Regions from separate parts of the Homo sapiens genome. Here regions 2, 3, 4 and 5 are each linked to region 1. The links come from fine-mapping of genetic effects on gene expression. A gene starts in region 1. Each other region holds a variant in brackets. All regions are shown on one strand. Distances are from middle to middle. Region 1 holds the start of TBC1D30 (TBC1 domain family member 30). Region 2 overlaps GNS (glucosamine (N-acetyl)-6-sulfatase). Region 3 overlaps TBC1D30 (TBC1 domain family member 30). Region 4 has its middle 22 kb from the start of GNS. Region 5 overlaps GNS (glucosamine (N-acetyl)-6-sulfatase).

Region 1 (4,118 bases):
CCCAGCTAATTTTTGTAGCTTTTTTTTTTTTTTTGTAGAGATGGGGGTTTGCCATGTTGTCCAGGCTCAGCCATTGTTTTTCAAGTTCAAATTGTTTCATCTTTGGCCAATAGGAAGGAGCCTATTTATGTGACTCTTGTGTCTTTTTGACTTGACCCCATTAATTGTGAAACATTTCCTTTCTTTTTGAGCTCATCAAAATGTTTCAGGGTCATCTTGTACTTTTTCTGTCCCAAACCTGGAATCAGTCACTCCTCAAAGGAGCCTTAGTTCCTTTGAGTGGGGAATGGTTTTTAGAGACCATAACCTGGGTGCTGTGGGTGTTCATTGCTGCTGAGTTGTCCTTACTTCTAAACCTATTCAATGAATGTATGTATTTTTTTGAAAAGAAAAAAAAATGAGTTCATACTAGTGTTTCCCATATAAATATATAATTGTAATATTTTAAAGAAAACTTAATTACTTTGGTTATACACATATTTTCTATTACACTGAAAACATCTTGGCTCCATTTGATGTTAGCATACTTATTTATTTGCTTTATCCTGTAGTGGATATAAGAATTTAAGAAATATGAATATTATTAATAACAATAATACTACTGAATGAAATGTAAGGTTTCTTTGCAGTTTTATTTGCTCTGGGAATATGTACAACTGTTGATGTACAGTCATAATATTGTGTTCTATGTCAACTTAAGAGAGAATTATTTTTTTCTGTGTTCTTATGCTATAAGTGGGATAGTCCATTAGGTTGATTTGTTTCCATTAATTTTCAATTGTTAGGGTTTTCTTTTACAATTTAAAAATAATTTATTCATTTATAGTCAGGGACTAGGTCTGTTGCTCAGGCTAGAATGCAGGGGTGCAATCATAGCTCACTGCAGCTTTGAACTCCTAGTTTCAAGACATCCTCCTGCCTTGACTTCCCAAAGTGCTAGGAATACAGGTGTGAGCCACCGTGCCCAGACTATTTTATGTATTTTCAAATTTTATTTTTATTTTTATGTCTTTTTAAGAGATGGGGTCTCGCTATGTTGCCCAAGCTGGCCTCAAACTCTTGGGGCTAAGCAATTTTCCCACCTCAGCCTGCCAAGTAGCTGGGACTATAGGCATGCTGTTCCATCATCCTGGTTTTTTAAAAATTTAATTTGTTAATATTATTAATATAGTGTTATTCCAGAGCCAAAACTACAGGAGGCACATCAAGAGAGGACTCAGTTTTCCATTCTTGTCTCCTCCACGATGTTCCTTCTCCTATACAAGTTTTCTAATTTGTTTTTGGTTTATCCATTTAGTGTTTCTTTTTATAAATATTAGCAAACACAAGTATCTTTATATCCCCCCCCCACACCCTTTCTTTCATCCATTTTAATGGTAAATAGTCTATTGGTGAATATTGCCGTTTGAGAATGACTTTTTTTTTTTTAAACCATAATGATGGGCAATAGTTCAGAACTACTGAAGTCTGGCTGGAGAGATGAGGAACATTACTTTTTAATACTGCTTGAAAAGAGAACACTTTTTTTCTGGAAGCCCATTTTTCTAAAAGAAACAATAATTTTTTTTTCCTTCATTTTCTCCGCGCCTCTCTAATCTGCCAGGAAATAATTCAACGCAATTCGGGCTGAAGCGTGTGCCTCGCCGCCTGCGGTTGGGTCATGGCCCCTTCTGAGACTGCTCGGAAGTGGGAGAGGATGCTTGCCCTTACGGGTGTTCTGCCCCTGAGACTGGCGCCCCTTGGTGCTCCCTCTGTTCCCTCCCAGATCTTGGGAGAAGCACGGACATCTCTGTTTCTGCTTTTGGTCCCCGAACGCAGTTACGCGCCCACTGGCTCCCTGTCTCTGGCGCTTCTGGGCACGGGGGAGCTGGGGCGGCCCCGCCTGCGCACGGCGGTGCCGGGATTGGGGGCGGGCACGCCGCCTCCGTCTCCCACGCGCTCGCTCGCTCGCTCGCTCCCGCCCTCCCCGCCTCGAGCGATCTCCTGCCTCAGCCTTGCAGGCTCCGCACTGCAGATGCCTGCTGGCTTCCCTGCGCTCGGCGGCTCCCGCGGTGCCCCGTAAGTCCCCGTGACCCTCCAGCACCAGCCGGCTGTGCGCTCCCTGCTCCCACGGGCCGGTCAGCCGCAGACACTCACCCAGCTCCGCGAGCTCAGCCGCTCAGCGAGTGGGGTAGCGGGGACCGAGACGGACGGTAGCCGTGCCAGAGCCCGGGGCGCTCTCGGATGCGGCAGGACAAGCTGACCGGGTCTCTGAGGCGCGGGGGGAGATGCCTGAAGCGGCAGGGCGGCGGCGTGGGCACCATCCTGAGCAATGTGCTCAAGAAGCGCAGCTGCATTTCCCGGACCGCGCCCCGGCTGCTGTGCACCCTGGAGCCGGGTGAGGACCCCAGGGCTGCAGATGGGGCGCTGTAAAGTAGCGCCGGGGCTGCCCGCGCTTCTGCCTTAGCCTGACTCCGTCTAGGCCGGGGAGCTCTGGGGAAAGTCCGCGTGCCACCTGGTGCGGGGCACCGCGTTGGCACCTGCAGGGAGCGATTGGTCTGGAAGGGTAGAGGGCAGACGGGGGCCTGGGTGGGGCAGCGGCCACCCCAGGCGCGGAGAACCCGCTGCTTCCACCCTCTCCCCGCGGACCCCCACCCTGCGGCCTGTGTGCTCGGCTTTCTCCGCGTGGCGGGGAAGTGCGGGTGGCTGCCCGGGCCCTCAGAGGCCGCACCACCTATTGTGTTCCAGGCTCGCAGGAAGCCAGACCTTGCGAGAGGTGTGTGGGGGCGGAGAGTGGCACAGGTTTGACACTGCAGGTCGGAGGAGGAAGACAGTGGCTGCAAAGGCAAAATCGGGTGTTATTTTCCCAAGAGTCCCTTCAGCGTGAGTGCCGGGGTCAGCTCGAACTGGAGCCTGTAATTTGTGAGTGCGAGTGGGGAGCAGCAGGAGATCCTTTTCATAGGTGAGGTCCAGGAACGAGCCTGGTCGTGCTAGGCAAGGCCCTTCCCACTGTCAGCCTGTGTTTACCCATCCCTGCTTCTCCAGACTGCATAACTCCGTGTCGGCTCCATCACCCGGCATCCCTCCCCGGGATTTTAAGAGCCTGGCCCTAGCGCGGGCTCCTGGGCACGGAGGTTTCTGGCAAGGAGTGGCTGCAGAGGGAGTTGGCTGTACTCTCACTGGTGCTTGGCGCTCACCTGTTCCCTGGAGTGGCACCGGCTGCGTTCCAGGCGGGTTCACGGTCCCCGGCCCCCGCCCCCCAGCGCCAGCGCCTTGGGGACCTGCTGTAGAGCCGCAGGAGAATCGAGCTGCAGAGTCCCAAAGGGTGGGATGCGGCACTGCCTTTCCCAACCTCGTGGTTTCTTTGTTGTTCTCCCCTAGGAAGTGTCTAGTTGCAGAGGCTGTAGTATTTATTCACCATCTTCCTTTACCTCTTTTTTTTTTCTTTTAAATCTCCTTCCCACGTTAAAAGTAAGTGTTTTGTATTTCTGAATCCGGAATAGCTGTGATTATCAGATGAAACATAAACCTTCTCTCTGCCCGTATTCTGTTAGAAGAAAAGAAAAGTGGGGTGAAAGTGACCTGGTTTAAGCTTTTGCATGCAGGCGGCGAATCAATTTCAGTTAAATCCTCTTGCTCATTTTTGATCATGAGAGGATAGTTGTGGTTTTGGCCAACTAACCCCTGCTGGGTTTCACTATGAGAAGGCAATCGGCATGATGCCCAGCAGGTGCCCCGGAAAAGTCAGAAGAGCATATTGGTCAGACATACAGGGAATCCTTGTAGTGTGGCAAGAATAAGTCAGCGCGGGACCGAATTTCCTGGTCTTTGTTATCAAGCAAACGTCATGATTATACGCTCCTCCATTCAGCACCTCGCGTCCGGACAGCAACCTCACTTGTTTTCAGCGTGCCTTAAAGCGTGCGCTGGGCTGGAAACACTCCCGTGGCCGTTGTTATCACCGTTCTATGTTTGGGCAGGACTTCGTTTAAACCACCTCAGAGAGAGGCGGATCCATGTGGTACTTAATATTCCTTCGGAGAAAAAAAAAACTTATCTATCCAGGCAGAGTATGGTTATGGCCCTGAAGCTTTAAAAAGAAATATCAAGGCATTGATTGGATGCCTGGGATTCTCTGC
Region 2 (4,118 bases), 93 kb before region 1:
ATTTCAAGTGCTCGACAGCCACAAGTGGATAATGCAGGCCTAGAGAGAATGTAAGCATAGAAGTCACTTGGTCACAGGCTAGAAAAATCTTCAAGCACTGAAACAATCCATTGAGCGAAACAAAGAGGAAGTGAGAAAAACTGGGAACTAAAGTTTACTGTGCCAGGCATTTGACATTTATTCTCATTTATTCCTCATCACAGTCCTTGGACACAGTGTTTATAGGTGAAGAAATGAAACACAAATCACTGAAGCAAAGTTATCAGCTTATAACTGGAAAAGCCATTACTTACTGACAGGAAGTAACAGTCTTCAAAACTGTTGAGAACATTTAGATCATCTTAGGAGAGGCCAAACAGGGAGATAAAACAAAACAAAAACACCCCAGCCCTGCCACTTTTAATTTAAAAACAAAACCAAAAGTACAGATATGAAAGGCAAAAAAAAAAAAAAAAAAAAAAAGCTTCAGAATATTATCAGGGGCCAGGTTTCCTGATGGCCAGGACAGCTCTTAGAGGGCAGAATGATAAATATCCTGGCCCTGAATCAATTAGTCTAACTCTGCAGCTGTCAGGTATTACTGCCCAAAGGCAGGCACTTCAGGAGAAAGGCAATCCATATGTTACTCAGTGGGGGAAAAACCTCACACACAAAAAACGATGTCTCCAGGGATGATACAAGACCCACTGTTACAGATAATTTTCCTGGTTCGAAGACCCCCAGGCAAACTGAGCAGCTTGGAAAACAGTCATCAAGTGTGAATGTCAATATGGAAGAGGTCACAGCAGGAAAGGAGGGTCAGAGAGAGATACCATCTCCAGAATGAGATCAAGACAACAAGCCATCTACAGACCCTGAAGTGTGACTAACAGATCTTCAGTGATATCTGTAAAATGAATGAGGTGAAGCCAGTTCCTCAGATACTACTATGATGTCCAAGGCAGTTTTAAAAGAAAAGAGGAAACATAAAAAAACCCAGAGATATAAAATGGTGACTGTCATCTCACCAAAAATTGCAAGAGCCACCACCTGTATAATGGGAGGCTTGTTCCTTTTTTGGTGAGGTGGGGGGAAGCTCTTTTTTGTTTTGTTGTTTTTTGAGACAGGGTCTCATTTTGTCACCCGAGCTGGAGTGCAGTGGCACAATCACAGCTCACTGTGGCCTTGACCTCCCAGACTCAACTGATCCTCCTGCCTCAGCATCCAGAGCAACTGGGACTACAGGTACACACCATGATGCCCAGCTAAATTTTGTATTTTTTTATTTTTCGTAGCAATGCCATGTTGCCTGGGCTGGTCTCAAACTTCTGAATTCAAGTGATCCGCCTGCCCTGGCCTCCCAAAGTGCTGGGATTACAGGCGTGAGCCACTGCACCCAGCCGAGGCTCTTTCTAATGGCATTTTGCTCTCTGGAGATAAAGGGGTAAGTTCCAGTATAAATCCAAAGTCACTAAGATTCAGCACAAGTACCGTAAGCACAAGTCATTCCAGGACTCCTTCTCCCTAGAAATCTATAATGATCACACTCCCCTAAATATAATGGATAAAATGTCTCCTCTTCTAGAATTTTATTTGAATAAGCGGACAGTCTCAAAATTAGCATACTATATCAGGAGATGGGAGACTTCTAGCAAATACCAAGTATGAATGAAGAGTTAAAAAGAATTATACCTACCTCTGGTTTTTATATAACCAAGAATTTGGATGGATTCACCCATCAATGTGATGACTTTGAGAAACACTAGTTTCACAGTATTGCTTTTGTCTAGTATAAACTTAAAAATTCATTTAAGGGCTGGGCACAGTGGCTCTCGCTGGTAATCCCAGCACTTTGGGAGGCCAAGGCAGGAGGATCACTTGAGCTCAGGAGGCCAAGGCTGCAGTGAGCCATGTTTGAGCCACCACATTCCAACCTGGTGAGAGAGCACCTATCTCAAACAAACAAAAAAATCATTTACGGATTGGAACAGAAAAAGCTTTGACAAGACCAAAAATATATCTATTTTTTGAGACAGATTTTTTGCTCTGTTGCCCAGGCTGGAGTGCAATGGTGCGATCTCGGCTCACTGCAATCTCCACCTCCTGGGTTCAAGCAATACTCTTGCTTCAGCCTCCCAAGTAGTTGGGATTACAGGCACCTGCCACCACACCTGGCTAATTTTTTTTTTTTGTTGTTTTTTTTTTTTTTTTGAGACGGAGTCTCACTCTGTCACCCAGGCTGGAGTACAGTAGCACGATCTCAGCTCACTGCAAGCTCTGCCTCCCGGTTTGATGCCATTCTCCTGCCTCAGCCTCCCAAGTAGCTGGGACTA[C/T]AGGCGCCTGCCACCACGCCCAGCTACTTTTTTTGTATTTTCAGTAGAGACGGGGTTTCACCGTTTTAGCCAGGATGGCCTCGATCTCCTGACCTCGTGATCCGCCTGACTCAGCCTCCCAAAGTGCTGGGATTACAGGTGTGAACCACCGCGCCCAGCCTCTTTTTTTTTGAGATGGAGTCTCACTCTGTTGCCCAGGCTGGAGTGCAGTGGTGTGATCTTGGCTCACTGCAAGCTCCGCCTCCTGGGTTCACACCATTCTCCTGCCTCAGTCTCCCGAGTAACTGGGACTATAGGCGCCCGCCACCACACCTGGCTAATTTTTTGTATTTTTTAGTAGAGACGGGGTTTCACTGTGTTAGCCAGGATGGTCTCGATCTCCTGACCTCCTGATCCGCCTGCCTCGGCCTCCCAAAGTGCTGGCATTACAGGCGTGAGCCACCGCGCCTGGCCTAATTTTTGTATTTTTAGTAGAGACAAGGTTTCACCATGTTGGCCAGGCTGGTTTCAAATTCTTGACCTCAGGTGATCCACACCTGCCTTGGCCTCCCAAAGTGCTAGGATTACAGGCGTGAGCCACCATGCCCAGACAAAAAAATAAATTATTTGATAAATCACTTTCTCAGGTTGAGAATGTTCTTAGGATTTAAGTATATAAATATCCTAATCAAATGAAAGTCCTTAGAAAACCCTGGGGTAGACTGGCTGTGGTGGCTCATGCCTGTAATGAGGGGAGGAGGGCTGATTGCTTGAGCCCAGGTGTTCCAGACCAGCCTGGGCAACATAATGAAACCCCGTCTCTACAAAAACAAACAAACAAACAAAAAACAAAAAACAAAAATTAGCTGGGCATGGTGGTGTGCACCTATAGTCCCAGCTACTCAGGAGGCTGAGGTAGGAGAATCACCTGAGCCTGGGAGGTGGAGGATGCAGTGAGCCAAGATTGTGCCACCACACTCCAGCCTAAGTTACAGAGCAAGACCCTGTCTCAAAAAAAAAAAAAAAAAAAAAAAAAAAAAAATTCCTGGGGCTTAAATCAAAGGGTATCATGCATTGAACCTGCTTATTCTTGCTCTGAAAGAATGACACTTGCATAATTACTGAAAAGAACAAGATGGCAACGGGCTCTCAGAACACATCAGGTTTCCAGACACCCAAACCCTGATGTTGAATTTCTGTAGAGTTATCAAAGAAAAGGCTCCAAACATACCAGAAAGCACCCCAAATCCATTTAGTGAAAAGCACTGTAACTACATGAGAAAGTGCAGAATCCCATATCTTGGTTGCTTCAGCTGGACTTGCCCCTCAGTTCCAGCTTTCCTGACAAGGAAGAAGCTGGGGCATCACCTGGTTCCACCTGATAATGGAGGCTTAACATCCTCTTACTTTTACAAAAGTAGGGGAACCAAGGCTGATTTTGTCCAAAGCCAACAGGTCGTCTTCCTGACTCCCAGTTCAGTTCTATTTCCCTGGGACGGTGCTGTGTCATTCTAGTTTTCCTACTAACCTTTTCCTTTTTAGAATTCCTTTTGCAGAACTTCTACCACCAAATCTAAAGCTAAACTAGTCAGAGGAGAAAACGTCAATAGTCAATCTTTGACATCTACACATATGACCTTGTCCCATTTCTCCCACACAGCTTAAGTCCACCAGTCAGTTAAATGTGCACTGATCTGGCTGTCAAGGCTGCTGACAGCTCAGCTCATTATGCCCAACTCACAAGCCTGTGCCACTCACACAGAACAGCTGGCACTGAGACAACTATGCTGCCAACACATGATGCATCACCCATCGTCTCCGACATTC
Region 3 (4,118 bases), 52 kb after region 1:
GTAGAGACAGGGTTTCACCATGTTGGCCAGGCTGGTCTCGAACTCCTGGCCTCAAGTGATCCTCCTGCCTTGGCCTCCCAAAATGCTGGAATTACAGGCATGAACCACGGCACCTAGCTGAGGACAAAGCTTTTGGTGCTTTTCAGTTTTCAATTGGCTTTCGAAGTCCATTGAGGACACAGGAGTGGTTTTTCACCTGTAGGGCTAGATGCTGGATAGCTGTGATTTCACTGCATTCTCACTACCTTTTTATCACTTCTGTCATTCTGCTGGATCTCACTTCATAATATGCAGTGTGTTCTTTTCCTACCTCTCAGAGGCTGACAGATGATAATCCATATGGTCATAGTGTTTGTTGTATTATTTTTTTTAAATCTGCAAAGATTTTTCTAAGTACAGTAACTCAGAGGTTGCTACTCAGAGCCAAGAGCTCTCTGTAAAAAAAAAAATTAGGGAGTCCAGGCTCTGATTAGGAATGAGGGGTCAGATGTTCCTTTTTGTATCATCACCCTGTGGTCCCTTCCTCTTTAAAGAAGAGCGCATTGGTATTCCAGGCTCTTCGGTTGAATTCAGTTTCTGCTGTCTTCAGTCACATGACTCTGCCCCTCCCTGGGGAACACATGGGAAGGGATGTGGTAGACGGGGCTGGGAGGACCTCTAAGTGATTTCTGTTCCAAGATGGATGTGTTTCTTTGTGGTACACTTCATACTACCTTTCAACATTTCTTTCAGACAAAGGGCCAGTGACCAGCATTCTCCCGTCTCAGGTAAACAGTTCTCCAGTTATAAACCACCTTCTTTTAGGAAAGAAGATGAAAATGACTAACAGAGCTGCCAAGAATGCTGTCATCCACATCCCTGGTCACACAGGAGGGAAAATATCTCCTGTCCCCTACGAAGACCTTAAGACGAAGCTCAACTCCCCGTGGCGAACTCACATCCGAGTCCACAAAAAGAACATGCCAAGGACCAAGAGTCATCCGGGCTGTGGGGACACCGTAGGGCTGATAGATGAGCAGAACGAGGCCAGCAAGACCAATGGGCTGGGGGCAGCAGAGGCATTCCCCTCTGGTTGTACAGCGACAGCTGGGAGAGAAGGCAGCAGCCCTGAAGGCAGTACCAGGAGGACGATCGAGGGGCAGTCTCCGGAGCCGGTGTTCGGAGATGCTGATGTGGATGTGTCTGCAGTTCAGGCGAAGTTGGGAGCCCTGGAACTGAACCAGAGGGATGCTGCAGCTGAAACTGAGCTCAGGGTGCACCCACCCTGCCAGCGGCACTGCCCAGAGCCGCCGAGTGCACCCGAAGAAAACAAAGCCACCAGCAAAGCTCCCCAAGGCAGCAACTCAAAAACCCCCATCTTTAGCCCTTTTCCCAGCGTCAAGCCCCTGCGGAAATCTGCTACTGCCAGGAACTTGGGATTATATGGCCCTACAGAAAGAACCCCAACTGTGCACTTTCCTCAAATGAGTAGGAGCTTCAGCAAACCCGGCGGTGGAAACAGTGGCACTAAAAAACGATGATGTCTCCCCGAAACTTTGTATCTGGACTCACCTTTTCACAGTAGTATAAGGGTTGCAGCTGAATGGCTCTAAAAGAGTTTTATTTGTCCAGTGAAAATGAATAGGTTCAGGGATGAGCAACAGCCCATAAAAAATGGGAACTGGAAGTTTTATAATAGGAGTTAGAACAGGGCTGTTTTCCCAGCTACTTGCTAACTGACGAAGTGGATTCTTGTGGCAAAATAAATATTGTGGTTTTATAGTGTGAAGTTTTCCCAATTTTTCATTGTGAGCTGTTTAAAAAAGACTATATCTAGATTGTTAACTCTCGTCCATCCTTCTGTTCTGGGGGCCTTCAGAGTCCCTGTGACAGCACCCCCAAACCTTCCAGTTCTCTGGGTGTTACTAATACTCAAGCATGCACATACCAGCTTGCTAGGACAGAAACTGTAAAAAGAAAGTAAGTTTCTTCGTTACAAAAAACTTCCTGATTTTCCTTTTCATGCTTTACGGAGGGGATTGTGTCGTGTGAGATTTCCCACAGTACCAGTTTCAAATTTTTTTTTTATTCTTATGCTAAATCATAGGAGAAAAATCTAGAT[A/G]GCCTTTCTTTAACTGTCTATTTCTACCTGCAAAATGAAGAAAACCTTTCATCTGTTGAAATTTCAATCGATAACCCAGCTGAAGATCTTATGCACAGGACACACTTGGCATATGCTTTACGCAGTTGCTCCGGACAGCTTGCTCGCGCCACTGAGCTTTTCCTGAGGTTTGTGTTCGCCTCTCAAGGAGAGCTTTGATCCTCAGTGGTACGGATGACTTGATGGGCTCCATGCGGAGCCTGGCCTGCATCCCCCACCACACAGCTCACTCACCCACCAGCTCTAGACTGCAGACGCACAAGGCCTCTGCTCAGAAGCCAGAACACAGCACCTGTGACTCTGTTACTTGAATTTTGTGCTTTTTGATTGGAGTCCTTTGTTGAGTACTTTGTTAATTGAACACTGCCTTTCTCTGGAGAAGGCCCCAGTGCTTTCTAGCTCCCTCTCACTCCTGCCCTTTCTAGCTCTCTCTCACCCAGCGGGTCAGGGATAGCACCTCTTGTCTCCACTATGCAGATGGGAACTCTGAGCCACACAGAGGTGAAGTAGCACTTCAGTTACTCAAGGTCAGTACTCTCGGTATTCCAAGTGACTTAGCCACATTTCCTTCAGTGCAATAGGTGGGTTTAATGCTCTTTGTACACAGATGTATTGGCTACATAGCGTGTAAAAACCAAGACTGGGAAGCCATTCACTAAAATCCCTCCTGACTCAAAGGACCTGTCTCCAGATGGTACAGAGTCCCTTGATGGCATTTTACAAAACCAGCTCTGACTTCCTTATCCTGAACAGGGAGTTTATTTTAAAAATGCTTCATGCACCTGTTATTTGGCTGAACAGAAGGCTCACTCCTCAATCCCCTTCTCCTCGCCATCATTAGAGGAATAGACTCAGCCTTCATGTTTGTCTCTGGAAGACGATTGGCGATACTTGCAGGAATATTGTTGATGCAGCCAATATTAATTTGAGCTAATGGATTGTTAATTCTGAAACGAAAACTGTAACTGTAGAGCAGGCTTTTACTATGAGAGGTACTACTTTTTATAATAGAGAATGTGGTTGTGTGGGCTTTTTTTGAACAGAAAACACAACAATGACCTATACCGTGAGAAAAGCCATTTTATCTTCTTCGTGGTATTTTTACCCCCAAAGGAACTGAAGATGGAAAATATGACTAATAAGTTATTGCAGTTTTGGTCTTGAATTCTGTGCCATCTGAAGTTAGCATCCAGCTTCTTAAAAAGCAGCCACGCCTACAGCCTGTTTTTTGGGAAGGCTGTAGGTGGAGAGATGGGCTTATTTTGCATACCACCCTCAGGGCCCAGAGACCCACTGCATTTTCCAAAGTTAAGCAAATGACACCATTTTCTTCCATCAGCTAAACTTTACAGATAATAGTGTTTCCACCTCATATCCTTTTCTTTGCCCCTTCTCAAATGAGTCAGAATAGTCATGTTCCCCTTGAGGGATGTCTGACTTGAATGGAGAATTGTTCTTTCCTCTCTTGAATCAGCTCACTAGCTCCCTGATGGTCTGGGTTCAAGGAAATGGTTAATGAGGTAGAGGCCACTTATACAAGTCCTTGGGATTGTACCATTGCTGTCCACAAACTTAGTATCAACAACACATGCTGTGCCCTGTGAACACTCTCCTCTCACCTATTTCCAGGGTTGGTCTTCCTGAGAAGGGGATGGATGAGGTAACACACAGTTTGGGATACGTATCTGTTGAATGAATGAATAAGTGAAAGGATAATAGTCCTCTGAGGTAAAAATGGCCTTGTCAGAATTTTGAAAATCCAACAGATTCCTATTAAAGCACTCTGTGTACCAATAACATGCATGCATTGTACCAAGTAATCACAATGTGAATTGGTCAATTTATGAGCCTTGCCTACTTTAGAAAATAAAGAAACCTGCAGTAGCCTCTACCACACAGCATGTACAAAGACCAGTATGGACTTGCTATCTTCCCTATGTATTGGACACTGTATGCAAACACCAGAAGTACTTAACAA
Region 4 (4,118 bases), 43 kb before region 1:
ATTAAATGGTAACAATAGTCATTAATATAGTTATAAAACCATAAAATAATATTTCCAGTATAATTTAAAATTCCGAATACCTAAGCGAAAAGTACAACTTCTGCTTGTCTCATATTAACTCCAGTTTCAAAAAGGGCCCTTTTATTGCAGTGCTGGTGTCAAGGTACACCAGATTTCTACCGGCAGGGTCAGGCTCTATTATGAAAGTGCCTTGGAAGACAAAACTGTGCTGAACAAACACGAAACACCAGTGTTGTTCACCAGGTGTGTTGTTGCCCCTTTTGGAAGTGTGGTCAAGTATTTAATAGCATTTGACTAATATATATTCATCCATAATGAAAGCCAGACACTTTATGAAAAGTTCACTTTATTCTTTGTGAATGGACACGTTATTTAGCCTCTTCGTGCCTCAGCTCCCTCAGCTGAAAAGTGAGAATATAACGACACTTAACTGCTTTATAGGGTTAAAGTGAGGATTAAGTGGGATAATTCATGCAAATCTCTAAGAACAGTGCCTGACATACAAAAAGCGCTAAACATGTTGCCAATTATTAACTTCACAAAAATATCTACAGTGGAGCGGCAGTTCCGAGTTCTATTGAGGTCTAGTGTAAGATACATCTCTCACAGTATCTTGTAAATTTTTGATTCTACCATCATCAAAACTAGCTCAATTAATGTATCAGTTCGGTCATCTCAAGAACATTTATTAAACCCTCACTCTGGTTACATCTTGTATCAGGGAATTAGTTGATTTTAATCCAGTGCTTTGGTTTTCACTGGAGGAAAAAAGTTCACAGCGTTATTAAGTCCCAGATATTTGCCAGGTGTTCAGAGTTTTAGAAAGCTTATTGTCAGAGACTAAACTAAGAAGGCTTTTGAAGGCGCTCAGATCAGGTGGGAAAGTGAGAAGGGCTGGTATTGTGTTCCGAGTATGTCAAGAAGGAGCTCCTGGCCTGGGCCTATTGATGGGCGTTTAGAACCCTCCTGGGCATTATTTCTAGCTGGCGGCTGAATAAGAGGCAAGAGTCACCCTCTTTTTGAGTTAAATCACGTGCTTAATTAAAAGTGAAGGTGGCGGCGGCCTCAGCGCCCTCCCCCTCCGTGCTGCTGGCTTCTTCCCAACGGTGTTCTGGCCACGTCCTGCGCCTTCTCGCGCACGGGAGAGCGCTCTGGGTAGAGGCCGGGCCCGGGCAGCAGGTGGCCCCAGGTAGCTCAGTGGCGTGGCAGTCTCCTTCTCGCCCGGTCCGGAGCGGAGGGGAGCGGCTCAGGTGCCGGCTCGGGGGAGGCCCGGGCACCTCGGGGATCCAGAGCCCGCTGGCGCCGCGCCCGGGAGGGCACCACCGGCGAGGACGAAGCCGCGCCTCCTCCCGGAACTGGCCGGCGCCGCGAGGCGGGAGGAGCAGCGGGAGCCGGGCAGCCGCGCGCCGGGGACCATGGACGTCCTTCCCACCGGCGGGGGCCGCCCGGGGCTCCGGACGGAGCTGGAATTCCGCGGCGGCGGTGGCGAGGCGAGGCTGGAGAGTCAGGAGGAAGAAACGATTCCTGCAGCTCCCCCAGCCCCGCGCCTCCGGGGAGCGGCGGAGCGGCCGCGGCGCTCCCGGGACACGTGGGACGGCGATGAGGACACGGAGCCCGGCGAGGCGTGCGGCGGCCGCACAAGCCGCACGGCGTCCCTGGTGAGCGGGCTGCTCAACGAGCTGTACAGCTGCACAGAGGAGGAGGAGGCGGCGGGCGGGGGCCGCGGGGCCGAGGGCCGCCGGCGGCGCCGCGACAGCCTCGACAGCTCCACCGAGGCCTCGGGCTCCGACGTGGTCCTGGGCGGCCGCAGCGGTGCCGGCGACTCCCGCGTGCTGCAGGAGCTGCAGGAGCGACCGAGCCAGCGGCATCAGATGCTGTACCTGCGGCAGAAAGGTGAGGGCCGGGCGCAGCAGGGTCCCGGGGGCTTCCTGGAGCCGGGTTGTCCTCGCCGTCTCTGCCCGCGCTCCAGCGCGCACCTGGGCTGCTCGGCGGAGCGCTCAGATACTGTCTCTTTGGATCTGACGGTGGTACCCACCGTGGCACAGATTTATGTCCACACTTAGTTCTTAAGTTCTCCGGAGTAATTGAATCAAGCGTCAGTTGATGGAGTGGGCAGTTTCCCCGCTCTTCCCTCCTCCCATCTCCCGGTGTGTTCGCGGAGGCCCCAGGGGAGAGGCAGCCCAGATTCTAATTTCACCTGAACAGCTGTTAGGACAGGGTTGGAGGTTCTGATACGTATACCTGACCTACCTAGAGGGCGCCGCCAGAATCGAGGCGAGTCGTAGGGCTGTTCTTTCCT[T/C]TTTTTTTTTTTGTTTTTTTGTTTTTAAAGTCCGCCTTCTCTGGTCACACCACTTAGTGTTTAACTAGTGAGGCAGAATAATTCGATAATGCGGTTTCGAAGCAGAGCGTGTGAATTCTATTTCTGCCAGAGCGTACGGTTCCAGGCAGCTCACTAGGAATTTTTGTTGTTGTTGTTTTGTTTTCTTTTTTTCCTTCTCGGTGGCAGGTTAGTGGAGGGCCCTAGAGTGTTGAGGTTTATTACAGAATTTAACTGCTGGTACCTTCAGTTGGCATGGAGAGGTCGACCTGAGAAAATGGCCTTGGCTTTCAGGGAGAGAGGCTAATTTGGTGTTTCTTTTGTTATGAGACTCTGATGCTCGTGTCTTGAGCTCGTGTCACACTTTTTTTTTTCATCTGGTCATAATAGCTTGCCTTTCAGGCAGTAACACAGTTATTAGAGTTGTCTTTTTTGGTATAGAAATATCAAGACCTCCATTTACAAAATGAGGTGACGTATGGAAAACAGATGCCGAGCCACCATAACATTTCTTGACAGTAATGTCCTTGGGCTGAGTTACCAGGGGAGGGAGGAAGGAGAGTCTCCCATCTCCTCACTGTATTAAAAAAAAAAAAAACCTAGGAAAAGAATAAATCTGTCTGCTTTCTCAGACCTACGTAAACAGCTTTTAGCTTCCTCTTTTGACTTCCTAGTGAAGATTTTTTTTTTTTTTCCCCAGCTGATTGTTACAGATAGCTTCCAGGTTCCTCCCCCTGCCTGGGACTTTGGCTGTAGCTGTGCCATTTCATTTTATAGAATTATTTGGTTGTTCTCAGAGTGTCTGTGTATGCCACAAGTCCCATAGGGCAATAGTTCTTTCAGACTCCAACAGAATCAATTTTGAAGAATTATGATTTCTCTTTTTACAAGGTTTTACATTTTTCATCACCGAGGGAATTCTGGGGATTAGTAATTTCCTTTTTGAAGAGGAAAATTGGCAGACTAAAGTTTAAAGAAGTAGTAACGGTACAGCTAACTATGCAAGTGGATTTCATATGAGTGGCCACACAACTAACCATCCACAAGCCCTGTAATAGTTCGTTTTGCCTGTTCGGTCTTATTGCATAGCTAGTTGCTGGTTAAACCTTTCTTCCCTTGTAGTCAACCCTATTAAGATGAACAAAATGCCATATCATAATAGTCCTATACACACATATGCGTGCTTACGTGTGCACACATACACACACTAACATGCTCCCTCTCCCCTTTATTGATAACATCATTCGCGTGCTAAGATTAAAGTATCAGGTGATGATACAGCTGTCTGCGTAAAGAATGCTGCTTATCAGGTTATTTGATCTTTTTCTCAGGCTCAAAAAATATTCCCCCCAATATAACTACTCTGCATTCAGTAAGAATGTCATACAATACTGATAGCCTGTGTATTGTCTCCTCTCCCTGCCAGGGATTTTGCTGTAGCACTTATTTAGCTATATATTTAACATGTGTAGGTCCTTTAGGTGAGGCACCAGAATGGTTTCTCAGGACATCTGGGCTCTCTTCAGTATTTCCTTGGTTAAGGGGATGAATTTTGGAGTCAGACTCCTGGGTTGATATCCGGCCGCAGTTCCTTACCAGCTGTGTGACCTTGGACAAGCTATTTAACATCTCTGTGTCTCACTTTCTTATAAATAGGGATAATAATAATACCTACCTCAGAGGGCTGTGGTGAGAATTACATAAGTTAGAGTGTATGAAGTGCTCAACAGATGTTAGATATAACTTTTTATCATATACCCTGGAATTCCTTAGGACACTG
Region 5 (4,106 bases), 110 kb before region 1:
ATAAATTAAGCTGAGGGAAATAAATCTATCTTATGGAGCTGTTTTATCCTCCTAAAATGATAATTACAAGCATCTTTATATCTCTCTATCCTTTGAGAACCTATCATCATCAGTTAGAGGTGCAGGTTATGATGACATATATGGATATCAGTCTCACCAGCAGGTGATCATGAAATCTTCCTCTCAAAGACTAAGATTTAGAATTGTTAAGGCTGGGCGCGGTGGCTCACGCCTGTAATCCCAGCACTTTGGGAGGCCGAGGCAGGCAGATCACGAGGTCAAGAGTCGGAGACCATCCTGGCCAACATGGTGAAACCCCGTCTCTACTAAAAATACAAAAATTAGCCTGGTGTGGTGGCAGGCGCCTGTAATCTCAGCTATTCGGGAGGCTGAGGCAGGAGAATCGCTTGAACCCGGGAGGCGGAGGTTGCAGTGAGCCGAGATTGCGCCATTGCAATCCAGCCTGGGCGACAGAGCAAGACTCCATCTCAAAAAAAAAAAAAAAAAAAAAAAAAAGATTTAGAACTGTCATCTACTCTACCATACTCCAGGAGCTAGCTCCCATGTCCCACATCTAAATCTTGTCTTATTCAGTGATTCTAGGCCATCAATAGAGATCTCAGCACGATGCTTTTAGCTTGTATCCTTTGGGTTCTCTGGTTGTCAGCTCTTGCCTCAACAGACTTTCGTGTATACATATTACCAGCCCTTTATATCCACTGGTGGTGGCTGGGTGCAGTGGTTCATGCCCATTATCCCAGCACTTTGGGAGGCCAAGGCAGATGGCTCTCTTGAGCCCAGGCGTTCAAGACCAGCCTGGGCAACATGGCAAAACCCCGTCTCTATTAGAAATACAAAAATTAGCTGGGCATGGTGGTGTGTGCCTTTAGTCTCAGCTACTTGGGAGGCTGAGATGGGAGGATCAGTTGAGCCTGGGAGACAGAGGTTGTGGTGTGCCAACATAGGGCCACTGCATCGAGCCTGGGCAACAGAGCGAGACCCTGTCTCAAAAAATAAAAATAAATCCACTGGTGGTAGAGGAAGATGAAACAAACACTACTTCTGTAGGGAATTTGGTTCTACAGGGCAGGCACCAGTTTCAGTGGGAATAGCTGGGATAAGTTAAAAAAAAAAAGGATCTAATGGAGTCTGTATTTATCTTCATTCCGAGTCTATGCAAGTGAAGATTCTCTTCCTCCTTGTTGATGGCTTGACTGTGATGTAATCAAATTTCCAATGTTTAGGATGGTAATTTAGTGACTTTACGGGTGCTCTGTACCATCTTGCGTTTCTATTAGTATTTGGTCAGTGATCACAGGGGCTCTTCTTTCTCTGCCACCTTTCTCTAGTATTTAGACAAAGGCCAGACCAGGTAGCTCTCAACACTAAATCTGACCCGATGCTTAATCTTGTTATCCTTTCCCTTTTCATCACTTTAAGTTCTTGATGTCTTGTCTTGAAATATGGAAGGCCAGCACCCACTTCTCTTTCCCATGTTTCTTTTGGCCTTAGGTCCCAGGTAAAAAAAAAAAATCTCACTTAAGCATTTAGGTCTACAATTGCTATTCTTGGCCTGATCTAGCATTCTAGCCCTTCTGGAGGGGGAAGAAACATCCAGCCAGGTGATCCCCTGCTACTGAACAGTTGACAGCTGTTGGGAGAGGCAATCCACTATGAACCCCAAGCATCCTTGCACCTCCTTGCTGGATATGCCAAGAACACAAGGTCCTGACCGTTTTTTTGAGATAGAGTTCCACTCTTGTAACCCAGGCTGAAGTGCAGTGGTGCAATCTTGGCTCACTGCAACCTCCGCCTCCCGGGTTCAAGAAATTCTCCTGTCTCAGCCTCTCAGGTAGCTGGGATTATAGGTGCCTATCACTGCGCCCGGCTAATTTTTGTATTTTTAGTAGAGACGAGATTTCACCATGTTGGCCAGGCTGACCACTTTTTATGCTGGCCATTCCTCAGGGTTGTCTGTAGTGAGCAGTTTGAGGGATAAGTTAATGTCTCCTTCTGGAACAAAGAGCAGCCTCGCTCAGTGCTTGCTATAAAACAAACAAACAGCAGGCTCAGCTGGGTGTGGTGGCTCACACCTGTAATCCCAGCACTTTAGGAGGCCGAGGCAGGTGGATCACCTGAGGTCAGGAGTTTGAGATCAGCCTGGCCAACATGGCAAAACCCCGTCTTTACTAAAATACAAAAATTAGCCAGGTGTGGTGGTGTGTGCCTGTAATCCCAGCTACTCAGGAGGCTGAAGCACAAGAATTGCTTGAACTCAGGAGGCGGAGGTTGCAGTGAGCCAAGACTGCGCCACTGCACTCCAGCCTGGA[T/C]GAAGCCTCCCCAAGCCTAATGTTCTTTTCCTGTAACAAAACCCACTGCATGTGCAGGCATCCCTCTGGGCCCTTTGCATCATACCTGTAGGACTTGGGTGTTAAGTGTGAACTGACAGGCTCTTACTGCTTGCTGTGCTGTACTACAGTCCTTTGTCTTTATCCCAGGAGTCTCATGAAATAACAGACCTACTTAATTAGCTTGCAAGAAGGGTACAAATCCCAGACCCTAATAAATGACCTTAAAATTGTGATATATCCAAATCCCCTATTATTTTTCAGTTTTACAATTTAAATATTTTTTATAGTGACAGAATGTCGCTATGTTGCCCAGGCTGGTCTTCCAACTCCAGAGCTCGAGTGATCCTCCTGCTGGGGTCTCAAAATGCCGAGATTAAAGGCGTGAACCATTGCCCCTGGCCCAAATCACCTGTTTTTCTGATAGTAATCTGGCAATTTTATGAGTGTCTAGCATTGTTTTCTATGTGGTCTTCAGAATTGCTAAGATATGAGGCAACCTATAAGCTCTGGGGTTGGCAAATTATGACCTACTTGTTTTTGAAAATAAAATTGTATTGGAACACAGCCACACACTTATCCATTTTCTATGGCTACTTTTGTGTTATAACAGCAGAGGTAAATAGCTGTGACAGTGAACACATGGCCTGGCAGCCTAAAATACTGGCCGTCTATCCCTATAAGAAGTTTGTTGACCCCGTAAGAAGTCATTCCTCATCTAGAGCAATGGATCACATGGCAAAGCACCTTTGAAGGCGAGCCTAGTCTGTTTGAAAGCCAGCCAAGATAAGACTTTTTCTCCAAAGCTGTAAATACATACAGATTTATCAGGAAATATTTTCTACATGGTGCTTCATTCAGGGGTTATCAGTAGGGGCCATGTATGTAAGAGCTATACAGGTAGAGACTATAGGATCTGACTAGAAAGCCCATTTCCAGTACTAGGTGAGTGATTAAAACAAACTGCATCAGAAGAAAGCATCTTGTCAAAATTACTACTTGTGAACTAAAACAAAGGACACATTCCCACTAGAACAGAAATAAATTTTAATTCATTGAAAAGTGCAGCAGTGAACAGGGTCCTTTTGAAGGGCACTTTCTAAGTCAAATGACTGAGATGACACAGAGCAAGGGCAGAATAGGAACAGAGGATGCAAACACAGGAAGTTACAAAATTCAGTGGGAACTAAGTGGTGGTAAAACTCAAGAACCCAACTCTACCCATCTAATTCCATTGGTGGATCAGTTGAATTAACTTTTGCTTTCTTTAGGATGAATCCTGGGACAACTTTCCTTTAAAAAAGCACTAAACCTTAGTTTAGACACTTAATAAGTTTAAGAACACTTCTCACAGAATAAGGTAAAACTTCCATGGCTATCATTACTATTTTGTACAACAGCCCTAGTGTTGTCAATTAAAATGTGTTTGCAGGCCGGGCACGGTGGCTCACACCCGTAATCCCAGCACTTTGGGAGGCCGAGAAAGGTGGATCACCTGAGGTCAGGAGTTAATCAGCCTGGCCAACATGGTGAAACCCCGTCTCTACTAAAATTACAAAAATCAGCCAGGTGGGGTGGCAGGCGCCTGTAATCTCAGCTACTTGGGAGGCTGAGGCAGGAGAACTGCTGGAACCCAGGAGGTGGAAGTTGCAGTGAGCCGAGATCACGCCACTGCACTCCAGCCCGGGTGACAACCGCGAGACTTCATCTCAAAAAAAAAGTGTTTGCAACAGCACCATTTGTCAAATTCAAAGATGC

The links.
Region 2: its variant is fine-mapped to the expression of TBC1D30 in whole blood (TOPMed, PIP above 0.99).
Region 3: its variant is fine-mapped to the expression of TBC1D30 in pancreas (GTEx, PIP above 0.99). The same link has a PIP of 0.9 or more in breast, esophagus mucosa and thyroid.
Region 4: its variant is fine-mapped to the expression of TBC1D30 in whole blood (TOPMed, PIP above 0.99).
Region 5: its variant is fine-mapped to the expression of TBC1D30 in whole blood (TOPMed, PIP above 0.99).

The regions. Positions count from the first base shown.
Region 1 is chr12:64,822,657-64,826,774 of GRCh38, forward strand. TBC1D30 (TBC1 domain family member 30) reads left to right here and starts at 1,991. Exons shown (of 12, transcript NM_015279.2): 1 at 1,991-2,377. The coding sequence starts at 2,224. RefSeq lists a silencer at 1,811-2,050 and an enhancer at 2,689-3,196.
Region 2 is chr12:64,729,996-64,734,113 of GRCh38, forward strand. All of the region lies in intron 9 of GNS (glucosamine (N-acetyl)-6-sulfatase), which reads right to left. Among named protein-coding and RNA genes, the nearest start is that of GNS, 27 kb to the right of the region's middle. The variant C/T (reference allele first, on the strand shown) is at 2,313.
Region 3 is chr12:64,874,269-64,878,386 of GRCh38, forward strand. TBC1D30 (TBC1 domain family member 30) reads left to right here. Exons shown (of 12, transcript NM_015279.2): 12 at 733-4,118. The coding sequence ends at 1,520. Among named protein-coding and RNA genes, the nearest start is that of LINC02389, 7.4 kb to the right of the region's middle. The variant A/G (reference allele first, on the strand shown) is at 2,102.
Region 4 is chr12:64,779,373-64,783,490 of GRCh38, forward strand. It overlaps a transcript of TBC1D30 not described here. Among named protein-coding and RNA genes, the nearest start is that of GNS, 22 kb to the left of the region's middle. RefSeq lists silencers at 1,199-1,478, 1,559-1,658. The variant T/C (reference allele first, on the strand shown) is at 2,321.
Region 5 is chr12:64,710,071-64,714,176 of GRCh38, forward strand. It overlaps GNS (glucosamine (N-acetyl)-6-sulfatase), which reads right to left. Exons shown (of 14, transcript NM_002076.4): 14 at 3,379-4,106. Among named protein-coding and RNA genes, the nearest start is that of GNS, 47 kb to the right of the region's middle. The variant T/C (reference allele first, on the strand shown) is at 2,331.